Linked DNA regions of Homo sapiens. The protein of the gene in region 7 purifies or fractionates together with the protein of the main gene of each other region. This does not show direct contact. Each region holds a gene or a part of one and is shown on either strand. Other genes may lie near its edges.

Evidence for each region.
Region 1: the proteins of RAB10 (region 7) and HCN1 purify together in Homo sapiens (co-immunoprecipitation; one large-scale study listed by IntAct). This does not show direct contact.
Region 2: the proteins of RAB10 (region 7) and MAPK8IP3 purify together in Homo sapiens (co-immunoprecipitation; one study listed by IntAct). This does not show direct contact.
Region 3: the proteins of RAB10 (region 7) and GDI2 purify together in Homo sapiens (co-immunoprecipitation; 3 studies listed by BioGRID and IntAct, with this or other methods). This does not show direct contact.
Region 4: the proteins of RAB10 (region 7) and UQCRC2 fractionate together in Homo sapiens (co-fractionation; one large-scale study listed by BioGRID). This does not show direct contact.
Region 5: the proteins of RAB10 (region 7) and LGALS3 purify together in Homo sapiens (affinity purification with western blotting, with the first as the bait; one study listed by BioGRID). This does not show direct contact.
Region 6: the proteins of RAB10 (region 7) and ITGB1 purify together in Homo sapiens (affinity purification with western blotting, with the first as the bait; one study listed by BioGRID). This does not show direct contact.

Annotation. Positions count from the first base shown.
Region 1 is NC_000005.10:45,689,881-45,693,380, forward strand, and holds part of HCN1 (potassium/sodium hyperpolarization-activated cyclic nucleotide-gated channel 1), read right to left. Parts: intron 1-3,500. UniProt on the Homo sapiens protein: Hyperpolarization-activated ion channel that are permeable to sodium and potassium ions. Displays lower selectivity for K(+) over Na(+) ions.
Region 2 is NC_000016.10:1,768,023-1,770,851, reverse strand, and holds the end of MAPK8IP3 (C-Jun-amino-terminal kinase-interacting protein 3), read right to left. Parts: intron 2,784-2,829; coding exon 2,745-2,783; intron 2,654-2,744; coding exon 2,474-2,653; intron 2,376-2,473; coding exon 2,226-2,375; intron 2,150-2,225; coding exon 2,028-2,149; 3' UTR 501-2,027; downstream 1-500. Other genes in the region: NME3 (nucleoside diphosphate kinase 3), read left to right, coding at 86-203.
Region 3 is NC_000010.11:5,782,435-5,785,934, forward strand, and holds part of GDI2 (rab GDP dissociation inhibitor beta), read right to left. Parts: coding exon 3,418-3,500; intron 2,840-3,417; coding exon 2,708-2,839; intron 1-2,707. UniProt on the Homo sapiens protein: GDP-dissociation inhibitor preventing the GDP to GTP exchange of most Rab proteins. By keeping these small GTPases in their inactive GDP-bound form regulates intracellular membrane trafficking.
Region 4 is NC_000016.10:21,977,361-21,980,760, reverse strand, and holds part of UQCRC2 (cytochrome b-c1 complex subunit 2, mitochondrial precursor), read right to left. Parts: intron 215-3,400; coding exon 61-214; intron 1-60. UniProt on the Homo sapiens protein: Component of the ubiquinol-cytochrome c oxidoreductase, a multisubunit transmembrane complex that is part of the mitochondrial electron transport chain which drives oxidative phosphorylation.
Region 5 is NC_000014.9:55,132,252-55,135,751, reverse strand, and holds part of LGALS3 (galectin-3), read right to left. Parts: intron 2,401-3,500; exon of another isoform or gene 2,398-2,400; coding exon of another isoform or gene 2,360-2,397; intron 1-2,359. UniProt on the Homo sapiens protein: Galactose-specific lectin which binds IgE. May mediate with the alpha-3, beta-1 integrin the stimulation by CSPG4 of endothelial cells migration.
Region 6 is NC_000010.11:32,923,731-32,927,230, forward strand, and holds part of ITGB1 (integrin beta-1 isoform 1A precursor), read right to left. Parts: intron 2,380-3,500; coding exon 2,141-2,379; intron 11-2,140; coding exon 1-10.
Region 7 is NC_000002.12:26,040,584-26,044,083, reverse strand, and holds part of RAB10 (ras-related protein Rab-10), read right to left. Parts: intron 1-3,500. UniProt on the Homo sapiens protein: The small GTPases Rab are key regulators of intracellular membrane trafficking, from the formation of transport vesicles to their fusion with membranes.

The DNA.
Region 1 (3,500 bases), on a different chromosome or scaffold from region 7:
AAACAGCCTGTAAATATCATAACAGGAATGTCAACCTTGGAGAACCTACGTTATTCGTGTCATTTTAAGAAATCTGTAAACTGGAGGCAGTATTAATTGGTCAAATCAATATGTATAGAATCTCTAGAATGTTCATAGGCAGTCATTCCATTCCCTGAACTTTAGCCAAAACAATGAAGAGTAAGGTGCGAAGATGTTTGTTGCAGCACTTTTTAAAAAATACTGAATAACTGTATACAACAAAGCTGATAGTCTAAAATTTATAAATATTTACTAACTTTGTATGTATGTAAAATTAGCCTTATGTTTTTAGAGTTACAGCTAGTGACCTGAAAATAAAATTAGGTTTATATAAATAAAATTATAAGTTGTAAATTTAAAGCATGAGTAATGTTGCTTCCTTGCTTTAACTGCGTGGTCAACTATTAGACAAAATAGAAAAATACTATGAGAAAACTAACTAACATAACTTGAAAGAGTCATGAAATCAATCTTATCAAAGTTGGGTGAAATGTGTCAGATAAACACTCAACTCAAAAATAATCAACTTCTATATATATTCTTTACTTCTATATATATTCTTCTACAAAGTCCCTTGAATAGTTTCTGTAGCACATATATACAAATAGAATTAACAGAGCCATGAAGGTTTATTTTGCAAAAACATAAAATTCCAGGATGCACCAGGAATCCTGATTTTTTTTTCCTGTAAAACTAATGGTAAGTTGTACATCCAGATGCCTTCACAAAGAAAATTATTTTTAGAAGAAAAGTACTTAGAGAAAATATAATTTTCATAGTGCATGCAGACTTTTTTCTTTATTATCACTATTTCTACAACTAAAATATATAGTGTCAGCCTAATTCATAGTTTGTTACTCCTTTACACAAAATGATAAAATGAAAATTTGTCACAGACCCTGCAAATGCTCAGTACTCTTCATGTAGTGCTAATGATCTGCAATAATTTGCACTGTACTTACAAGAGACTCTATTTGAAAGTTCTTTTCCGGAGCCCAATTGTTGTTTCTAAATAATGAAGTGAATTATCTGCTAAACACAAGAATTATATTCAGAATGATAAGATTATCACCTGAAAATCATACTAAATGCATTCTGCTGGTTTCCTGCTCACTATAGGACATAGGTGCATTGAGTATAATAATGCAGAATTACAAATACTATTTATCTTGCTTTGTGGTGGTGATGTTGTTTTGGTTTGTGGTTTTTGATCAAGCAGATATAGTTGAATATAATTTTCTTAAATGAACCTATGATACAAATAATAAGTAATATATCTTTCCAGTGCATTTAAATTTCTTTCATTATTCAACAGGCACGTTCATAAACCCAAGTCCACATAATTAAATATGATTAGTAAAGTGTACCTCTTTACTGATTCTCAATTTATAATCATACCCCGAAGGAGGTTTAAAGGGAAAGTTGCTCAGAAAAAAATGAAAACTATCTTATAATATTTTAATAGTATAAATCATAATATCTACTAAATGCAACAGTGAAACATTTGCTAAAATTTAAAGTTGCATAACTTACATGTATACTAAGAAAAAGTAACTAAATAAATTCACACGTTTAAATCTTTGAAGAAATTTCATGTTGTGTCTAACAGTTGCTAGAGCCACTAAGAAAAATGTAATTGAACTTAAAGCACAAAAAGGTTCACCTAACATAGAAAAAAAATAAATTCTTATGGTTAATTTTGGCTATGTTGATATGAAAAGCAAATAAAATAAGCATTGCTGGCAGATACAGAGTGTGTTCAGCACAAAGATAACATAACAGTAGGCTAATTCGTCTTTAAACCCTAGAAGGTTGAATTGTTTTCTTGTGAGAAGCTCCTGGAAGCAAATGTTCTCTCTATTATGAACTGTATAATATGGGTGAAGCCTCCCTTCCCTAATGAACACATCAGTGATCTCTGATATCAGTACAGTTGTGGCTGCAATTCAAAGCAGAGATGGAAGAACGGATGTGACGGTATCTTCAGGAAGTAACTCCCATCTCTAGAGTCCTTGAGTACTTACAACAAAATAAGCTTTTCACACACTCATACTAATGATGAAAAGAAATTGAAAAAAATAAGAAGTCAAGATACAAAACTGCCTCCGTTATGAGGAGCAAGATGTTGGCTGGCAATACATATGGAAAGGAGCATTCTTTTTAAAAGTCCCTTTGTGTAAGCATGATGGAACAAAATAATGACAGAATCCCTAAAATGGCAAATAGTCTGGTGATAAATTCTTCCAAGATAAATTGCTTGCATAATAAAAATCATCCACAAAAGTATTCTAAATATTCTTTCAACCTATTTAAATGATTATATCATAACTATCAATTGGCTATGGAAGCACAATGCTTGCCAAGCATCACTTTTAAACCTTAGTAAAATTCTAGCTAATTAATATAAAATCACCATGAATTTTTAAAAATCATATTTAACCTCCAAATTAAATGTGTCTATGTGTTGTTCACATGAAATTCAATAAGACTAAGACCATACTGTCACTACAGAAAAATCGAGCTACATTTGTTTTTAAGTAACTATCCCTATTTTCCCTAGTTTGGGTGCTTATATACCACAGCATAAACAAAAACATGAGCTTGTTGTGTTTACTAAATTCTGTAGCTTCCACCCAGTTATTTCAAACAGTACCTATACTATTGGACTGCTTTTTACTCTCTGAAGGTTTCTATTGTCATCCTCTGCTGAGGAAAAAGGTAAATACAGCAACTCTGCCCTACTTACGCCAGGGGTAGAGAAAACTACCTGCCAGACACAGCAATAGCACTCTTGGGCTCTGGTGGGGAAAAGAGGCACTAGCTAGCTCTCTGAAAGTCTCAGTGGGAGCACAGCCTTGTCCCTTGAGGTAAGTAAAGTAGAAAGCTATCAGTCTTAAAAATTATCGTGAGCAGGGAAACTAGAAACAGTGTTAAAGTCACGACATGCCCTGGAGTAAGAACATAGTAAACTTCTCTGGCCATGTAAAGGTTTATTAAAAGTGTCAAGGAAAAGAATCCTCTGGATATCTTCATTTGTAATAACTCCCCACTCTTCATAGAAATTACTCTTAAGTGTCATTCACTCAGTTGTTAAATGATTAATGAACTTAAGTTTGACATTTTAGGAATTGTAGTAAAGCACCTCCCTGAAATAATCCTTCAGGAAAGGGCCTAAAGTAAAGGCTAGATCATGACCGCAAAAATTTCTAGTATCTGTTGAAAATTACTCACACATTCCTTTCCCTGTAGAAAAAAACTACCGCTAGAATTTTGTCTTTCCTATTTTTGTTCTTTCATTACATTATCTTGACGTTATAGATTTTAGAAAATCTTATATTGGTTTTGAGATCATACAAAAAAATGAAACAATAAGATGTAAATATATTCTGAATGTAAACAAGTACATGATTATTTTTGCAGTTTGTTTTAGAACACCAGTGTATATTGTAATTATGTTTTAAAATCTATTTTTTCAGATA
Region 2 (2,829 bases), on a different chromosome or scaffold from region 7:
CCCGTCCGGCCTCCCCCTGTTCAGCCTGCGTGGTACCCGTGCCGGAGGTCTCTTTCCCACGCTCACACGCGCCTCTTCCGCGCAGGAACCTGATTCACGGCAGCGACTCGGTGGAGAGTGCCCGCCGCGAGATCGCTCTCTGGTTCCGCGCAGACGAGCTCCTCTGCTGGGAGGACAGCGCTGGGCACTGGCTGTATGAGTAGCCCGGCAGATGCGCGTCACAGAGGCTCTCACACTCCAGCCTCCTCCAGGGCCCAGGTGGGCGGGCTTCTGGCCCCACCCCACAGCGCTTGGAGCATCCCTTTGGACGGGCTGCTGAACATCCACCTGTCTGGACGTTGCATGGAGGGTGGCGCAGGCCTCTCCAATCCCTGGCGTACAGGGTTTCCTGCCCGAGGAGCTGCTCCAGGAGCCTGCGCGGCTCGCCTGGAAACGTGCCAGGACACTGTCCTGGTGCCCAGCCCAACGTGGTCCAACGTTTTTTTATAATAAAGTCCTCGTTTTCGTTTCGATTTGGGCCCAGGAACAGGCAGCTACGACGTTAAGACATTTATTACATACAGAGCAGATATGTGGGTTTGCTTGCAGGGCCAAAGCCTGAGGAGAATCGTCACCCCTCCCCCAGCCGCCCCACTGCTCAGCCCGGAGTCACTTCGAGATCCTGGGGGAACAGACGAGGGAGCGGACATACATCACAGTGGAGGTGGCAGGGTGGTGGGGAGAAGCCGGCAGCGCAGCGGCTGCAGCCCTCGGTGGCCAGCGGGGCTTGTGGGGCAGCTCCCCAAGATCTGTGCTTCTCTGGTTGGGGGTGGGTGCGGGGGCTGGGCTGCCCTCATAAGGGCCTCCCAGACAGGAGTGCAGTGGGCCTGGAAGGTAGGAATAGGCCAGAGAGGCCCAGCTGGGCAGGGAGAGCAGTCCAGGGTGGCGTCTGCCCTCTGCGGGCTTGGAGTCGGCTGGGGGCGGCTCCATCCTCAGCCCCACGGGCCTCTGCTTGGTGGCCTCTCTGTTGCTCCCTGGAAGCAGGCCACAGCGGGCAACCCTAGGCACTTAGTAGCGTGTCTGGGAGCTGGGCTCCGTGGAGCCCCGTGCAGGAGGCAGGCCCCGGGAGCACATCATCCCCCATCAACCTGAGGCTGAGCCTGTGTCCTAGGACTGATCCCGGAGAGGCCAGGGGCCTCCCCTTCTTCCTGAGGCCTGGGCCTGCCCTGGCAGCCTGAGAAATCCCACCCTGGGGGCTTCTGGGAGGGACAGGACTCCAGGGCCCACTCCTCCAAGGTGAGTCTTCTGCCCAGGCAGAGCCTGGGGGGACACGGGTCAGAACGGGGCTGGCAAGAGCCTGCCTGCATGGGCAGGATGGGGTAGCAGTCTCTGTTCTCAAGCAGCTGCCCCAGGGAGCCGGGCCTCGTGCTTTTATGCCAGCTCCCTGGGCAGGGGACAGCTGGGGTGGGGACAGACAGGATAGAGGCTTGACGACGGGGAGGCCCCAGAGAAGGCCGGCTGGGGTGCAGGCACCTGGGCAGCCTGAGGCCCACCTCCCTGGGCAAAGGCTAGTGCCTGGCCCAGCTCCCCTAGGCAGAGTGAGGGCCCAGGAGGCAGGGTGGCCCCATGAGCAGCATGCAGAGGTGGGCCCAGGGCAGGCAGCCTCGGCGGCGGGGAGCCCCTGCCTCCTCCAGGGGTGCTGGGGAGTAGGAGGCCCAGGGTAGAGCCAGGACCACCTCGGATTCTGCCTGCGCTGGGCCCAAGGTGCCCTGGACTTGAGGACTCTGGGCTGGAAGCTGGCCAGGAGCTGCCCGGGAAACTGTCCCGAGAGCATCTTCCCCTCGGGTGGAAGTTCCCCTCCCCTCCTCCTCCCAGCTGATCCGCATCCCCGCACTCCCTGCCCGCTGGAGGGGCCAGACTCAGGTGAAAGCTGCAGGTTGAGAGGTTAGAAGAGGGGCGGCGGCGCCTGGCTGGCTACCCCGCGGGCCGGGCGGGGGTCAGGTGGTCGGGGGTCCTATGTACAGGTCGGGCCAGGCAGGGCAGCAGCTTCACTCGGGGGTGTAGGACACCTGCCACACGATGATGTGACTGCGCTCTGCCTTGGACAGCACGGGCTTCACCTGGCTCATGTCCCCTGCGCCCTCCTCCGTCTCGTCGTCCTCTCCGTCTCCTGCGGGCAAAGCAGCAGAGTGACGGCCAGGCTCCCCCCGCGCCCAACCTCAGCCCTGTCCCTGGGCCCCGCTCACCAATGCGGAAGTCGATGTAGCCCTCCCCGCCGCTCAGCACCAGCACGTTCCGCAGCTTCTGGCCCTCGACCTCCGAGGCAGGGGCAGCTGGCCCAGGGCCCTCGGCTGGGCTGTCCAGCACACTCCCATTCAGGGTGGCCAGCACGTTCCCTGGGATGGCAGAAGCGATTCAGGACAGCGGCCTCCTGGGGGAGGCGGCGGCCACTGGCATGCAGGGGATGTGGATGGCAGGAGGGGCCCAGCCTCACCTGGCACCGAGACAAAGAACTTCACGGCATCGCGGTGCCCATGGAAGCATAGCTGGGCCTGGGCCATGGAGCAGTAGGGGATGAAGCTGCTGGCCGCCCTGTCACTGCTGTCATCGCCATACACGTGGATGATGCCCCCGGGACGGGCGCCCTCCCCAGAGGTGGGGGATGTCTTATTGGCTGCAGGGAGAGAACCCAGAGGCGCTGAGCCCGCATACAGGTGGAGAGTGGGAGAGGCTCCCGTGAGGGGACACGAGGTGGCTGGGCTTACCTCGGAGCCCCAGGAGCTGGCCTCGGTGCAGGACCACAGCTGGGGACATGGGAGGAGCATGGGAGAAGAGGAGAGCGGTCAGCGT
Region 3 (3,500 bases), on a different chromosome or scaffold from region 7:
ATCTGCCACATTAGTCAGCAATTTCACTCCCAGTATTTACCCAAAAGGAAATGAAAACCTATATCCCCACAGAAAGTGTTTTACATAAAAATTTCACAGTGCCTTCATTCATAATAGCCAAAAACTGAAAACTAACTAGATGTCCACCAAAAGGAGAATTATATGCTCATATAATTCATACAAAGGAATTCTACTCAACAATTAAAAAAAAAGAATTGGCCAGGCACAATGGCTCACACCTGTAATCCCAGCACATTGGGAGGCCAAGGTGGGTGGATCACTTGAGGTCAGGAGTTCAAGACCAGACTGACCAACATGGTGAAACCCCATCACTACTAAATATAAAAAATTAGCCGGATGTGGTGGTGCATGCCTGTAATCCCAGCTCCTTGGGAGGCTGAGGCAGGAGAATCACTGGAACCCAGGGGGTGGAGGTTGCAGTGAGCTGAGACTGCACCACAGCACTCCAGCCTGGGCAACAAGAGTGGAACTCCATCTCCAAAAAAAAGAATTACTGACACATGCATCAATATGGATGAATCTCAAAAAATGAAAAAGACACAAATGAGAACATATTGTATTATTCCTTTTACATGAACTTTGAAAACAAGCAAAAGTAATCTATAGTGACAGAAATCACAGAGGTGGTTGCTGGGGATGGGGGGCAGTATTCATTATGAGGTGACACAAGGGAACTTTATGGGGTGAGGAAAATGTTCTATACCTTCACTCAGGTTTTAGTTAAACCCAGGACAGGGATAGGTCTATAAATTTATCAAACTGATTTTTTTTAAAATATATATAGTTATAAAATAAAAAATATAAGAATAGCTACTTCTGCTCGCTTCTGGTGTCCATTTACATGAAATATATTTTTCCACCCCTTTACCTTAAATTTGAGTCCTTTTGTGTCTGGTGAATCTCTTGAAGACAGCAGATACTTGGTTGATGAGTTCTTATCCATTCTGCTATTCTGTATCTTTAAAGTGGAGCATGTAGGCCATTTACATTCAACATTAGTATTGAGATTTGAGGTACTATTCTATTCATCGTGCTATTTGTTTGCCTGAACACCTTGTTTTTTTTCTTCATTGTGTTATTGTTTTATAGGTCCTGTGTGATTTATGCTTTAAGGAGATACAATTTTGGTATTTTGAGAATTTGTTTCAAGATTTGGAGCTCCTTTTAGCAGTTCTTGTAGTGCTGGCTTGGTAGTGGCAAATTCTCTCAGCACTTGTTTGTGTGAAAAAGACTACTTTCCTTCATTTATGAAGCTCTGTTTCACTGGATACAAAATTACTGGCTGATAACTTAAGGAGGCTCAAGATAGGATCCCAATCCCTTCTAGCTTTTAGAGTTTCTGCTGAGAAATCTGTTAATCTGATAGGTTTTCCTTTATAGGTTACCTGAGGCTTTTGACTCACAGCTCTTAAGATTCTTTCCTTCATCTTGACTTTAGTTAACCTGATGACTATGTGCCTAGGTGATGATCTTTTTGTGATGAATTTCCCAGGTGTTCTTTAAGCTTCTTGTATTTGGATGTCTAGATCTCTAGCAAGGCCGGGGAAGTTTTCCTCAATTAATCCCTCAAATTTGTTTTCCAAACTTTTAGATTCTTCTTCTTCCTTGGGAACACCAATTATTCTTAGGCTTGGTTGTTTAACAAACTTATTGGAGGCTGCGTTCATTTTTTTAAATTCTTTTTTGTCTTTGTCAGATTGGGCTAATTCAAAAGCCTTGTCTTCGAACTCTGAAATTTCTTTCTTCTACTTATTCAATTCTATTGCTGAGACTTTCCAGTGCATTTTGCATGTCTCTAAGTGTGTCCCTTGATTTTCAGAAGTTGTGATTATTTATTTATGCTATTTTCCTGGAAATTTTTCCATTCATATCCTGTATCACTTTTTTTGTTTTGCTAAGTTGGACTTCACCTTTCTCTCGTGCCTCCTTGATTGGCGTAATAATGACCTTGTGAATTCTTTTTCTGGCAATTCAGAGATTTTTGTCTTGGTTTAGATCCATTGCTGGTAAGCTAGTGTGACCTTTTCAGAGTGTCAAAGAACCCTGTTTTGTCATATTACCCCAGTTGTTTTTCCAGTTCCTTCTCATCTGGATAGACTATGTCAGAGGGAAGATCTGGAACTCAAGGGCTGCTGTTCAGATTCTTTTGTCCCACAGGGATGCTCCCTTGATGTGGTGCTCTCCCCTTTCCCCTAGGGATGGGGCTTCCTGAGAGCCAAACTGCAGTGATTGTTATTTCTCTTCTTGATCTAGCCGCCCAGTGGAGATAATCAGGCTCTAAGCTGGTACTGGAGAGTGTCTGCAAAGAGTCCTGTGATGTGATCTGTCTCCAGGTCTCTCAGGCGTGGATACCAGCACTTACTCTGGTGGAGGTAACAGGGGTGTGAAGTAGATTCTGTGAAGGTCCTTGGTTGTATTTTTGTTAAGTGCGCTGGTTTTGTATTGGCTGGCCTCCAGCCAGGAGTTGGCACTTACAAGAGCACATCAGCTACAGTTGTATAAAACTGGATTTTTTTTAACTGAAGATCCATGCATATCATTATATGTTAATTTTATTTCAATAAAAATAAAAAGCATCTTATTACTCATAGACTGATCTCATCTCATTATTTAAACTATATCTCATATACACATTATGTTGAAGATGAGGTTTTGGATCACTGAGGTTTTAAACACAGGCTCTTACCTTGCAAATCCTTGGGGCAGTTCTCCAAGGCCATAGAGTGGATAAAGGTATGGGCTTTTGCCATATCTTGCCAAAGATTCACTGTAAAGTTTAATTCTATTAATGGTTTCATAACACGGTTGATCTAAGTAACTGGAAGAAAGGAAATGAGTATTAGGAAAGGGCTTTAGTTTTCATTCATGGTGTTCAATTTATAATTTTTTTTGAAGCGATTTCAATCCGCTATCTTCTTTTTTGTTTTTTTGTTTTTTGAGACAGGGTCTCACTCTGTCGCCCAGACTGGAGTGCAGTGGTGCAATCTCGGCTCCCCACAACTTCCACCTCCCAGGCTCAAGTGATTCTTCTGCCTCAGCCTCCCAAGTGGCTGGAATTACAGGGACGCACCACTACCGCCCAACTAATTTTTGCATTTTTAGTAGAGAGGGGGTTTCACCATGTTGGCCAGGCTGGTCTTGAACTCCTGACCTCAAATGATCCACCCAACTTGGCCTCCCAAAGTGCTGGGATCACAGGCGTGAGCCACCACACCTGGCCCACTACCTTTATATTTAAATCACTTAAAAGGTCCCAACACTAATTTCAACTAGAACCTCTTCATTCATAGTGCAATATGGCTAAGTATTTGTTTTGTTAGAATTTCCACTTGGAAGACTTGGGAAATTTAGTGAGAATTTCAAGAAAAATACAAATCTAAAAACCAAAATACTTACTCATCAGTTCTGTAAAGTGCAAGAGCATGACCAGTAAAATCTATAACGTCTTGACCCAAATCAAATTTCTTATACACATCTCG
Region 4 (3,400 bases), on a different chromosome or scaffold from region 7:
AAATTGGATCATTAAGGTTAAGTTCTCTGTTGTTAAATCGTTAAGTTTTCATTTACTTACATTTATGATATCAGCATTAGCCACTGAATCAATCTGCTGAAGGACTGTGGATGGTGGCATGTAAGAACCAGCAACTAGAGCCTGGGACCCGACTTCTTCCAGGAAACACTCAGAAGACTCCACTGACATTAGGTATCCAGCTTTCAGCTTGTTCCTGTCCAATAAAAGGCAGAAGTCAGTTTTAGAGAGCAAGGCAATTATTTTTTTTTTCTGAGTGGTGGCGGGGGGCTGTGAACATCAAAGCTTTATTTAATGGATAGAGTAACAGCGTGTCTCCCTCTTCCTGAATTCCCCAAGAAGAATGCCACTCCCTTCTCTGGAACATACTAAAACAGTAAGTCTGAAGGGAAGAAGTCTCTTCAGGGTTGCCAAAGTGTCCAATTGAGGGCCCACTTTGGCCTCCATTTGTGGGTCCATATGCTGCTACAGATTTGAGTGAGACAGCTGGAGAGCTCCCTAATGCTTCCCAAGGCCTCTGGATCCGGTTGTGCAATCTGGATCCTCTGCATGTCACTGGCCAGTCGCAGCATGCTCTTTCTCCTGCCCACTGGCACAGTGAGGAAGATCTCTCTGCTGTCAGTGAGAAGGCTGTCATCCACTGAGATGGCAGTCAAAAGTGCATTTAATACACCTAACGTATCGAACATCATAGCTTGGCCCAGGTTATCTCATATGTGCTCAGAACACTTACAATAGCCTGCAGCTGGGCAAAAGTCTTCTAACATAAGCCCATTTTGTAAGGAAGCATTGATTATCTCATGTACTGCATATCACTAGCCTAGGAAAAGATCGAAATTCAAGGTATAGTCATGTACTACATAATGATGTTTTTGGTCAATGATGGACCACATATATGATGGTGGTCCCGTTAAGATTATTAGGGAGCTGAAAGATTCCTATTACTTACTGACAACATAATGTTGTAGTGCAATTTTAAAAAAATAAATTTAGCGTAGCCTATGTTTACAGTGTTTAGTATCTACAGCAGTGCACAGTAATGTCCCAGCCCTTCCCATTTACTCACCACTCACTCACTGACTCACTCGAAAGCAGGAGCTATGCCATAAAAATGGCATACCATTTTTTTATCTTTTGTGCTGTATTTTTACTGTACCTTTCCTATGTTTAGATGCACAAATACTTACCTTTGTGTTATAACTGCCTACAGTATTCAGTACTATAGTACATGCTATACAGGTTTGTAGCCTAAGAGCAATAGACTATACCATAGAGCCCATGTGTGTAGTAGGCTATACCATCTAGATTTGTCTGAACACTGAGGTTCACACAGTGATGAAACCACCTAACACCACATTTCTCAGAATGTATCCCCATCGTTATGTGACCCATGACTGGAAGCTGAAATTGCGATGGTTTTCCTCCATAGTCAAGTTGAAAAATTATAATTGATCCATGGCAAGTTGGGGACAGTGTATATTGTAAACCTACCTTTTGGCTGCTACAGTGTGAAGACCAGGGATCTTGAAGAGCCTTCTGTCAAACCAGGGTGTCAGGCCTGTACTTGGTGTCACCACAGACAACTCCACCTGGCCCACAGCTGGGGTCACAGTGTTATAAAGGTCACAGTCTTGACCTTTTCCTTTTGCCTTTTCCTTGTATGAAGTGGGTTCTCTTCTTGGATGGAGGATACCGTTCAATGCTTGTAGTTTGAAGATTCTCATGTTTATTTTCTTCTTATGCTATCGTTTCACTTGTATTACCTGTGAGTTTTGGCAGGTTTCGGGGGTGTCTGAAGAGCTTCTGCTGTCTGTTTATTTCTGTGATATCCACTTCAGCTGTTGCTGCCTCTTTTAGGGCCTGTTTGTTTTCACCAAGGGTGAAGTAGTCAAGCCAGTTCCTCTTACACAGTGAAACAGGGCAATTTTAAGGTATGTGCCCCGAAACTCAACATATTTTTGGTAAACAGGCAAACTAACAACTTACAGTGCTAATGGCCTCCATTCTATTTCTTCAGTTCACCAAGTACGTGAACCGTTTACGTTACTATTTGGAAAGCTGTCAGTACGAAATTATACTGAAAACTCCACAGATTGCTTTTTGATTTGGGACTAGAACTTAGATCTAGGTAAAACTATTTTAATGTAAGGTTTTGATTAGTGAAGCAACTCCTGCCTCTTGCTGAGATTTGTCTGTGAGCATAGGGTATGATGGAAAAGGCAGGTGGGGAAGGGCAGTACAGGTCTTGTAAGCAACGGCAGCTTAAATATGGGCACAAAAGCATCCACTTGAAATAAAACAAAATCCAATTCACAATTCTCCCAGAAACTTATTACTTATAGACATGGTGTTTGATAAGACAGTCGAGTTATTTGAACCTCAAACGTTTATCATCCTTTAACACTCTACAGAAAGACTTCCATTTAAACATAATTACAATTTAATGCTGCAGTTTTACCACGTTGTCAGCTTAATTAAAAAATGATTTTACCTGCAATAAACTACCAAGAGGTTATTAGTGTGTCCTTTCGGCAATGACACCTCACTTTCTCTCTTTCACTACAGGAAGAACTTACAAGAAAAAGTATCAACTCCATCAAAATGGCAGAAAACATACTTTGACATTAATATTCAAAATTCTACTTTCTGCTTATTACCATACCTTGTAAGAACTGTGTTACACTTATTAAGAAAATACGTTTTCTTAAATAAATTAGATTTGAAAAACTTAGGTTTTTCTTAAGTAAATCCAGTGTTTCAATGTATTCTCATCATGTTTTGTTTCTGGTACAATCAAGCAGCCCTGCATCCTATCGATTCTTGGTTCTATGTATACAATATTTAATAAATTGTGTTGTACTTATACAAGAGATGCAACTTTGTAGTGTGCTCAGCATAACAAAACTAACAATACTAATGGGAACAGAAATGACCAAAAGGTTGTTCCATCCTGGGTTGTAATTCTGCTTCCCCTGTGGGCAATACTAAATGATCATAACGACCACTGGAGTTGCAAGATTCACATTTTGAATTGTTCTAAGTAGATGGAGTCAAACTTAAATGTCTTAAGCGGCTGTATGAAAATGCAGGTTGATTTCCAACTTTGTCCCAAGTCTGTCTCTTTTAGAGAAACCCTCGAACTACTAATGAATTAGGAGTGTTGATAGCACTTTCAATCTGGACAGTGGGGATTTATAAATTGCCAAATAGCAGACAAGTATTTTAGTCTTTCTTATAAAACAAAACAAAATCAGATCTTTTTTGGGTATAAATTAGTTATGAAGAAAGAAACTATTGTAGAATAGGTACTCTTATATACTGGTGGTATGATTATAAACTGGTACAATCTCTTTAGATTTGTGACTTAGAAATACATTTTTTT
Region 5 (3,500 bases), on a different chromosome or scaffold from region 7:
CTCTATGAAAAATACAAAAATTAGCCGGGTGTGGTGGCGCATGCCTGTGTTCCCAGCTACTCGAGGGGCTGAGGTGGGAGGATCATTTGAGCCTAGGAGGTCAAGGCTGCAGTGAGCTGTGATGGCACCACTGCACTCCAGCCTGGGTGACAGAGCGACCTCATCTCAAAAAAAAAAAAAAAAAAAAAAAACCATAAAATATTACCTTATTTTTGGTAAAACTCAAACAGGCAGAGCTCCTCCTAGGGCTTAACATATGCTTCATTTATACACACTGGATATTTTATACAGGTTGAGTATCCCTTATTTGAAATAGGACCAGAAGTGTTTCTGATTTACATTTTTTTTTATTTTGGAATATGTCCTTATGCCCAGTTAAGCATCCCTAATCTGAAGAGCCAAAATCCAAAATCTCCAGTGAGCATTTCTGTAGAGCATGGCCTCTGAACATCATGCAGGCATGCAAAACGTTTGGGATTTTGAAGCATTTCAGATTTCTGCATTGGGGATGCTCATCCTTTACTATACTGCTATTATTTATATCATAGTCAGACATTACCTTTGACTAAAATATTTTTGCACATCTTTTTTTTTTTTAGACAGGGTCTTGTTCTGTTGCACAGGCTGGAGTGCAGTGACATGATATCAGGGCTCACTGCAGCCTCCACCTCCCAGGCTCATGTGATCCTCCCACCTCAGCCTCCCAAGGAACTGGGACTACAGCCACACAACACCACACCCAGCTAAGTTATTTTTTTTTTTAGACACGGGGTCTCACTATGTTGCCCAGGCTGGTCTCAAACTCCTGGGTTCAAGTGATCCTCCCACCTCAGCATCCCAAAGTGCTGGGATTACAGGCATGAGCCACCGCATCCAGCCACACATCTCTTTTTGAACATGGTCATTCTGAAACCTATTCAGAAGTGGTTAGGTTATGACCATGCCCATTTTCCAACCTAGGGAACTGCTGGCAGCTTGACAGGGAAGTCACGGTGACTCCAGAGGTTACTGCATCTTTCATTTACGTTACATCCTGTAGTGCTTGGCTTTTTAAAGCAAAAGTTGTGAGCTCCTCTGCATGTGCCTCCTTCCCCAAAAGGCTGCCACACTACCGTATAAGAAACCGTATAAGTTGCTACTGCAGGGGGACCTTGAGAGAAGAGTTGTTACAGAAAAGGAAAATAAATGAAAATTTTTAATTCAGAAAAAGAAAGTCTCCCTCATTTTGGATGCCATACGAAACAATCTTGAACTTCAAGGTGGGCAGAAAGCTTAGTTCCTTTAATTACACATACTTCTTCCACCCTAAGGCAACATATCAAAGACCCAGCAATAACGTTATCAACATTTTGATTTCTTTTAAATGTCCTCATTGCACAGGAGCTTATTGTGAACCTCAGCACCACTGACACTTCAGGTCAGATGCTTTGCTGTGGGGCGCTGTCCTGTGCACTGCAGGATGTTCAGCAGCATTGCTGGCTTCAATACATATGCTGCCAGAACTCCAGCATACCACACTCCAACTTGTGACAACCAAGTGTCTTCAGGCCAGGTGTGGTGGCTCACACCTGTAATCCCAGTCATTTGGGAGGCTGAGGCGGGAATATTGCTTGAGCCCAGGAGTTCAAGACCAGCCTGGGCAATACAGCAAAACCCCAGTCTCTACCAAAAAAAGGAAAACAAAATGTCTTCAGACATTGCCAATATCCCCTGGGAGCAAAATCATGGCTAGTTGAGGACCGCCAATCTAGCTAGTTAGCAGTGTATCCCTACATGAATGTACACACGTGGTTCAATAAAAACCAAAAAGGTAGTTTCAATTGTTAAAACTAGCTGAATTTGCCTTATAAAGGGTCCTAACATAACTCTATTCAAATTAAGATGTGTTTAAAGGCTGATTCCAACCAGAAAGTCAAATAAAGAAGGCATTTCCATAATTTAATATTTATTCTTTTCAAAGCCTCTGCTCAAGCATGTTTAGTTTATTTTCCAATCTAACCAAATCCAGTTTGGGAAACAAAGCAGATCTCGTTGCATTTCCACTGTTTCAACACCACCTCGGAGGGCAGTATAGATTGTGTCTCGACACATTAGACAAGGCCACTAGAACAAAACCTGGCATTTGTGTGGCGCTTTTCAGCTTATGAAGCATGTTCACATACCTTATCTATTTTAGTTATAATGACATTCTTTGTGGTGAAATCTTGTACTGTCCTGCCATCTCACTGTCCAGCCTGGGACATGAATCATCCCTATGTCCAGCCTATCTACACTGTAGATGCTACCCACCCACAAGTCACTTAGTAGCAGGCTTGGTTATCAGATCAAAAAAACAGTATATATAGGGTTTGATACTAACCATGGTTTGAAGCATCCACAGGGGGTCTTGGAATGCATCCCCTGAAAATAAGGGGGAGACTACTGTGTTCTCACCATAAGGAAACTGAGGCTCAGAGAGATAACATGGTGGCCCAAAGTCATCTGTCATTGGCAGATCAAGGAGTAGGGCTCGTGTCTTTTTACTCCTTATTTAGGCTCATTCTACACCAATAGAAAACATCACACTTTGAAATTTTAAAGTACAGTCCTTTGAAAGTGTTAATTACTTCATTGTGAAATTAATTCTCTGACTTACTCATCTGTAACTACATAACATACTGAAATTGTAAACAAATTTTTTAAAAAGGATTGTGTTTTGGTCAGAAAACTAACTGGGTGATTCATTCAAGCACAAAATAATATTGAATATTGAATACAAGAATGCCATTTTGTATAGTCATTTGCTAATTATAATGACATTTTAACCAATAAAGTGTACTTTTCCAAAAATTGGGTATGCCCCGTCAACTTCCAACCATGAGATTTCTTTTTTGAAAAGCATTATAGGCCGAGTGCAGTGGCTCATGCCTGTAATCCCAGCACTTTGGGAGGCGAAGGCAGGAGGATCATGAGGTTAGGGTTTTGAGACCAGCCTGGCCAACACAGTGAAACCCCATCTCTACTAAAAATACAAAGAATTAGCCAGGTGTGGTGGTGGGCGCCTGTAATCCCAGCTACTCAGGAGGCTGAGGCAGGAGAATCGCTTGAACCCGGGAGGCAGAGGTTGCAGTGAGCCAAGATGGCACCACTGCACTCCAGCCTGGGAGACTGCGAGGCTCCATCTCAAGAAAAAGAAAAGAAAAGCATTATAACTGATGCTCTTTTGAAATCAAGATTATTAACCTCAAAACTTTCAGGAAAACAAAAAAGACATCTATTCAGATAAGTATCATCCTTACTTGCCTGAAATTTTTTTCTTTTTTCTTTTCAGATGAGTAGTTTACAGAGAGAGACATACAATCAAATGTCACAAATCTTCCCACTCTACAGACACTATAGATATGTGAACCCCACCCTGGTGTTTCCAGGATCAGAGAATTTTGAACAGTCAGAGGGGAAAAAAAAAAAACTTCAAAAAATAAACTAAAAGTAGAGAAATACTAGCTGGGTCTCCACATTTG
Region 6 (3,500 bases), on a different chromosome or scaffold from region 7:
CAATCAGTGACTTGAAAAGAAAAGGATTTCAATTTTAAAACACTATTCACAGTAATTCAACAAAAATCCTTTAATTTTCATATAGGCCACCATTGTATTTTTAACCTAATTCTGTATTTTCTGTGTCTTCTCTTTATACAATGGTAATTATCTTGCTGAGAAACACACAAAGCCCACTGAATGAAGCTCTTCCATCCCATGTACAACGATATCTTGCCTGACCATCCGTATCTCTCAATCTCTCAGTTCTTTTTAAAAACTGTTTTTTTGTTTTGTTTGGTTTGGTTTAGTTCTGCTTATCATCATATCTCCAGCAGCTAGCAAGCCAGCACACTGCTTGGCAAGCAGTAAGCCCTTGATGAGCATTTGCTGAATAAATGAAAGTGTCTGAGCCTATCCTTACTTTACCCCACTGCTGCTGTCTTGTCCCCATCCACCCATCTCTGCTCTATGTTCTATGCCATGCACCTTCTTTATCAGCCCACCATATGAGGCTTCCTTTTTTTATAACAGAAATAAGTATCTTGTTTAAGGATAATTTCACCCATTCTAACTCCTCAATCAGTACTGTTTATGCACTCATTTACTTTATCCTTGCCCTTTCCAATAAAGAATCTAAAGTAACTGTAAAATCTTCTTGTCACTATGGTAATTTATAATTATAAAATCATAGGACTATAGGAATTTACCTGCTTTCGTTAATTTATTTAATACGTCTGTTTAGATCTTCATAAGACAGTAAAATACTTTAAGGTGGGAATCACATTTATTAATACTGGCAATCTTTCAAAAGTGGAATGTCTGATTCTTTTGCATCTAGAGGAGTGGATCAGCATGACCAACACAGAAAAACAGCCACAATCAAGGGTGTTATGGCTTGTTTAATACCACAGGTTAAGGCCTAGTTAGAGGCAGCCCAGAGAATGCCCTCCCCACAACGAGCTGCTAACAGGCTCACACATCAATGGCTAGTAAGAAAAGAGGTGTAAGGCTAGGTACTACCTGGAATGCTACTTGCTTCGGCTATAACAGCAGGGACTAACCTTAAATTGCAAACACTCTAGTGAAAAGTCGAAAGTAATAACAATATAGGAATTAGTATTTGCTGAATGCTCATTGGTACTTTATAGAGATTGATGCATTTTAACTTCACAAGAGCCCTATGAGGTAGATACTATCATGATCCCTTCTTAAAGAGAAGAAAACAGCCCTGGAGAGGCTGAGTAAATTGCCCAGCATCAGTGGTGATAGAAAAATTCTTAATTACTATCCATATTCCTTCACTTATTATTTTGGGCATCAATTAGCACCTTAGCAAAAATTGACTGAAAAATAACCACTAAGAGGCCTCTAAAATCAAAGAAGGTCATCTAGAGAATGGGGGCACTGGAGGGAACAAAAATGAGACAAGAGTAGGTACGCAGGACAAACTTGACATGACAATGTCTTCTAGTTTCAGCCTCAGCCACATCATTAAAGTGTCATCTCAAAATACATAGCTGCTACATGGATCATAAAATACAAATTATTGAACCAATAGGGATGGGCTTGCTACTGAAAATCTTACAATTAAAATTACAAATATTGTATCACTTCTCAAAATACATCTATTCATATAGGTTAAAAACTAGAGCTTAAAAAGTTCTCTCTTTTTGAATTACTAAGACACAGGAGAAAGATGTGTCTTTCAAAGACAGTGAGAAGAAAACTGACCAAAGGAAAATGATACAAGACACTCTCCCTTTGAGCAATTTCAAGGTTCCTGGTGATGCCTCAGATAATAACATCAATTCTATCTCTAGTACAAAGCCAGAAAGTTAGGACACATGGGCTTTTCTAAAATCCAGACCACCAGCTACAGTACAGAGAGGTTGCCCCGCTGTTTCAAATGGTTAGCATTCTGTCTTTTAAAAGCCCGCATGAATAAACTAACTGTGTGGTTTGCATAAAGATTAAATATGCTTTTATAAAGGCACTTTATGTATACAGGCAATTTAAGGGTTTACTTAAAATTACTTCTCTAAGATAATCAAATCTATGAAAATTAAGGTCAATTTTTCTATTATCATAGTAAAATCACACTTAAAATTCACACACATAATAGAAACAATATCCCCTGATAGGAAATGAATGCGCTTACTCCACAAACTGCAACTTGCATGATGGCATCGAAACCACCTTCTGGAGAATCCAAATTTCCAGATATGCGCTGTTTTCCAACAAGTTCATTAAATACTTCTCCTTTATTAGTAAGACTGAGCACATTTTTGTAGCTAAATGGGCTGGTGCAGTTCTGTTCACTTGTGCAAGGGTTCCTGAGCTTAGCTGGTGTTGTGCTAATGTAAGGCATCACAGTCTTTTCCACAAATGAGCCAAATCCTGCCAAGAAAAAAATGGTACATAAATGAATGAATGGATGGATAGATGGAAAGACAGAGATTTGCATTGTTTAAAAAATTCATCTATGTTACCAAATGTAGGTTACTATGGACTGAATGTCTGTGTTACCCCAAAATTCCTACATTGAAAACCTAATTCCCAACATGATGGTATTAGGAAGTGGTTCCTTTGGAAGGTGATTAGATCATGAGGGCAGAGCCCTCATGAATGGGATTAGTAACTGATACAGTTTGGGTATCTGTCCCCGCCCAAGTCTCATGTTAAAATGTGATCCCCAATGTTGAAGGTACGGCCTGGTGGAAGGTATTTCGATCATGGGGGCAGATCAATCCCTCATGGCTTGGTGCTATTCTGACCACAGTGAGTGAGTTCTCATGAGATCTGTTATTTAAAATTGTGTGGCATCTCTCCCCAACTCTTGCTCCTGCTCCCACCATGTGAGAAGCCTGCTCCCCACTTTGCCTTCTGCCACGATTGGAAGCTTCCTGAGGCCTCCCCAGAGGCCTTGCTGATGCTAGCGCCATGCTTCCTGTAGAGCTTGCAGGACCGTAAACCAATTAAACCTCTTTTCTTCATAAATTACCCAGTGTCAGATATGTCTTTATAGCAACGTAAGAATAGACTCCTACAGTGACCTCATCAAAGAAGCCCCAGAGAGCTGCTGTCTCCCTGCTGCTATGTGAGTACATCGCAAGAAGGTATCATCTATGAACCCAGAAGAGGGACCTCACCAGATGCTCAATCTGCCTGGATCTTGGACTTCTCACCTCCAGAGCTGTGAGAAATAAATTTCTGTTGTTCATAAGCCACCCAGTTTATAGTATTTTCTTAAAGCAGCACAAATGGACTAAGACCTAAGACAATCTTTTTATTTTGCCTCCCTACTTTAAAAATAACTCACATTCATTTTCTTGGCACACCAGCTCTCAATAATGACATGCTGAACAAATGAATAAACAAATATTCTAGAATTCTGGCCATTTTAAAAAACACTAATTTGATAGGAGCTCCCTAATGCCATGGTCCTTGAATTATGCTTACAGAATAAAAGAACATTTTAAGCAAGTGCTATTTTTAAATGTTTCCACTAAAATAGGGCT
Region 7 (3,500 bases):
ACACCATTGTGCAACAGATCTCCAGAGCCTTTTCATTCTGCAAAACTGTAATGCGTTGTTTTATACTCATTAAACACCTTCCTATTTCCCTCTTCCCCAGCCCCTGGTAATCACCATTATTTCTGTTTCTATGAATTTGACTTTAGATAGCCTCATATTCATATAAATGAAATCACATAGTATTTGTCTTTTCATGCATTTCAAACATTTTTAAGTGTACAATTCATTGGCATTAAATTAATTCACACTGTTATACAACCATCAACACTATTCCTCTCTGGAACTTTTTCATCCTTCCAAACTAAAACTCTGTGATCATTAAGCAATAACTCCCCATTACTCTGTCCCCCAGGCCCCAGTAACCACTATTCCACTAATTTTGTCTACTATAGGTACCTCACACATTATTTGTCCTTTTGTGTCCAACTCATTTTACTTAGTAAACTATTTTCAAGGCGTATCCATGTGGTAGCATGTTAGAATTTCCCTCCCTTTTAAGGCTGAATAATATTCCATTCTATGTGTATACCACATTTTGTTTATCCATTTATCCACTGATGAACATGTGAGTTGTTTCCACCTTTCAGCTATCGTGCATAATGCTACTATGAATGCTGGTGTACAAATAGCTGTTTGAGTCTTTTTTGTTGTTGTTTGTTTTGAGACAGGGTCTTGCTCTGTCATCCAGGCTGGAGTACAGTGGCATGATCATCAGCTCACTGCAACCTCCGCTTCCCGGGTTCAAGTGATCCTCTCACCTCAGCCTCCCAAGCAGCTGGTACTACAGGCATGCGCCAACATGTACAGCTAATTTTGGGGGGTTTCTTGGTAGAGACAGGATCTCACCATGTTGCCCAGGCTGGTCTTGAACTCCTGAGCCCAAGTAATCTGGCCTCCTAAAGTGCTGGGATTTACGGGCATAAGCCACCTTGCCTGGCCCTGTTTGAATCTTTGATTTAAATTATCCTGGATATAACTCGAAGTGAGATCACTAGATCATATGGTAATTTCATTTTTAATTTTTTGAGAAACCACCCTATTGTTTCTCACTGTGGCTGCACCATTTCACATTCCCACCAGCAATGCACCAAGGTTCCAATTTCTCTACAACCTCATCACTTGCTTTTGTCGTTTGTTGTTGTTGTTATAACTATCCTAAATGGTCGCAAAGTAACATCTCACTGTGGTTTTGATTTGCATTTCCCTAATTATTAGTGATGCTGAACATCTTTCCATATGTTTATTGGGCATCTGCTTAGCTTCTTTGGAGAAATACCTACAGAGGTTTTTTTTTTTTAAATAGTAATTATGAAACAATTCACAAATTTGCGTGTCATCCTTGCGCAGGGACCATACTAATCTTCTCCATATCCTTCCAATTTTAGTATATATGCTACCGAGACAAGCACTCTGGATGGTCTTTTGGGGTTTTTTGTTTAAGACAGAATCTCACTCTGTCATCCAGGCTGGAGTGAGATGGTACAATCATAGCTCACTGCAGCTTCAAACTCCTGGGCTCAAGTGATCCTCCCATCTCAGCCTCCTGAGTAGCTGGGACTACAGGTGTACACCACCGCACCCAGCTAATTTTTTATTTAAAAGCTTTTTTTTGTAGAGATGGGGTCTCGCTAAGTTGCCCAGGCTGGTCTCGAACTCCTGAGCTCAAGCTATCCTCCTGCCTCAGCCTCCCAAAGTGTTGGAAATACAGGTGTGAGCCACAGCACCCAGCCTAATCAATCATTTCTTAAATGCAGGTTAGTGGAACCAACCTACTCTTCCAAAACTTAGCAAAATCATCCTGACAACAAAATGTATGTATTATACCTCTCTTAGGGACAAGAGCCTTTACCAACTTGATTTCTTACATGGAGCCGAGAGACTCCAATTCCCAGTGAAAAATATTCCCTGTTAAAAAATGAGTAAGCCTGTGGTGGAGAAAGGATTAATGACACCAAAAGGTAGCACATCCAGTATAGAAGCAGCCCACTAAAAGCTTGTGCTTTGGGGACAAATCCATGTAATTCCCACATCACTAATAAGTAACGCATTCCTGAGCTCATACTACCAAGATGGTTATGGTCAAATCAACCACTGAAATCTTCTCATCCAAAAGCAGTAACTCTCTTAAGCCTATTTTTCAAACAACCTTTCAATTTCTCTTTTTCTTTTCTTTTTTTTTGAGACAGAGTTTTGCTCCTGTTGCCCAGGTTGGATTACAATGGCACGATCTCGGCTCACCGCAACCTCCGCCTCCCTGGTTCAAGCGGTTCTCCTGCCTCAGCCTCTAGAGTAGCTGAGATTACAGGCATGCGCCACCACGCCCAGCTAATTTTGTATTTTTGGTAGAGACAGGGTTTCACCATGTTGGCCAGGCTGGTCTCGAACTCTGACCTTAGGTGATCTGCCCGCCTCGGTCTCCCAAAGTGCTGGGATTACAGGCGTGAGCCACCAAACCCAGCCCCAACCTTTCAATTTCTAAGAGCAGTCTTGCCCTATTAAGCCAAACAGCTAACATTCTTTTTTTTTTTTTTTTTTTTTTTGAGTCAGCGTCTCACTCTTGTCACCCAGGCTTGAGTGCAGTGGCACGAGCTCAACTCACTGCAACCTCCGCCTCCCGGGTTTAAGCAATTCTCCTGCCTCAGAGCCTCCCAAGCAGCTGGGGCAACAGGCACACACCACCATGCCTAGCTAATTTTTGTATTTTTAGTAGAGACGGGGTTTCACCATGTTGGCCAGGCTGGTCTCAAACTCCTGACCTCTGGTGATCCACCTGCATTGGCCTCCCAAAGTGCTGGGATTACAGGCATGAGCCACTGCGCCCGGCCACAGCTAATATTGGTAAGTCTGATCCCAATCTACTTCATATAATGATCAGAAAGTAGGTAAAAAGGAAAAATTTTACATAAACTACCCCCAATTCATATTAAGGGGATCCTGATTGTACCACCTGTCTGCCTACCTGCCTGCCTTCATTCATTATTTATGGTGCACCCATTAAATGCAGGTACCCTTCCAGGTGTTTAGCACACATGAGAAAAAAAAAAAAGACAAAGATTTCTGCCTTTGTGCAACTTATATTCTGGTGCCCTTGGATTCGTTTTGAGATTGGTTGAGTGTACCATACCAGTAATTTGTTTTTTGCAGCAGTCTCCAATAAATCTGACCATAAATACAATACATAATTTCTAATACGGATGTATGAGAATTGAAAATATATAGAAAAATTCAAATACAGTAGTCTTTGTGAACACCATCCTATAAATCTATAAAAATTATTTCTTCAAAAAACCATAGCCAATAAGAAACTTAAATGACTGCACCTGAAATAATGAGGGCCTGCCTTATTTTGGCAGTCAGGTCCTTCTGAACACCTGCAAGATAACTACTTCTATACAAACCTCTGGATGTTTTCTGTTTTTGTTTTATCATACACGGTCTCGCTCTGTCACCCAGGCTGGAGTGCAGTGGTGTGATCCGAGCTCACTGCACCTTTGAACTCC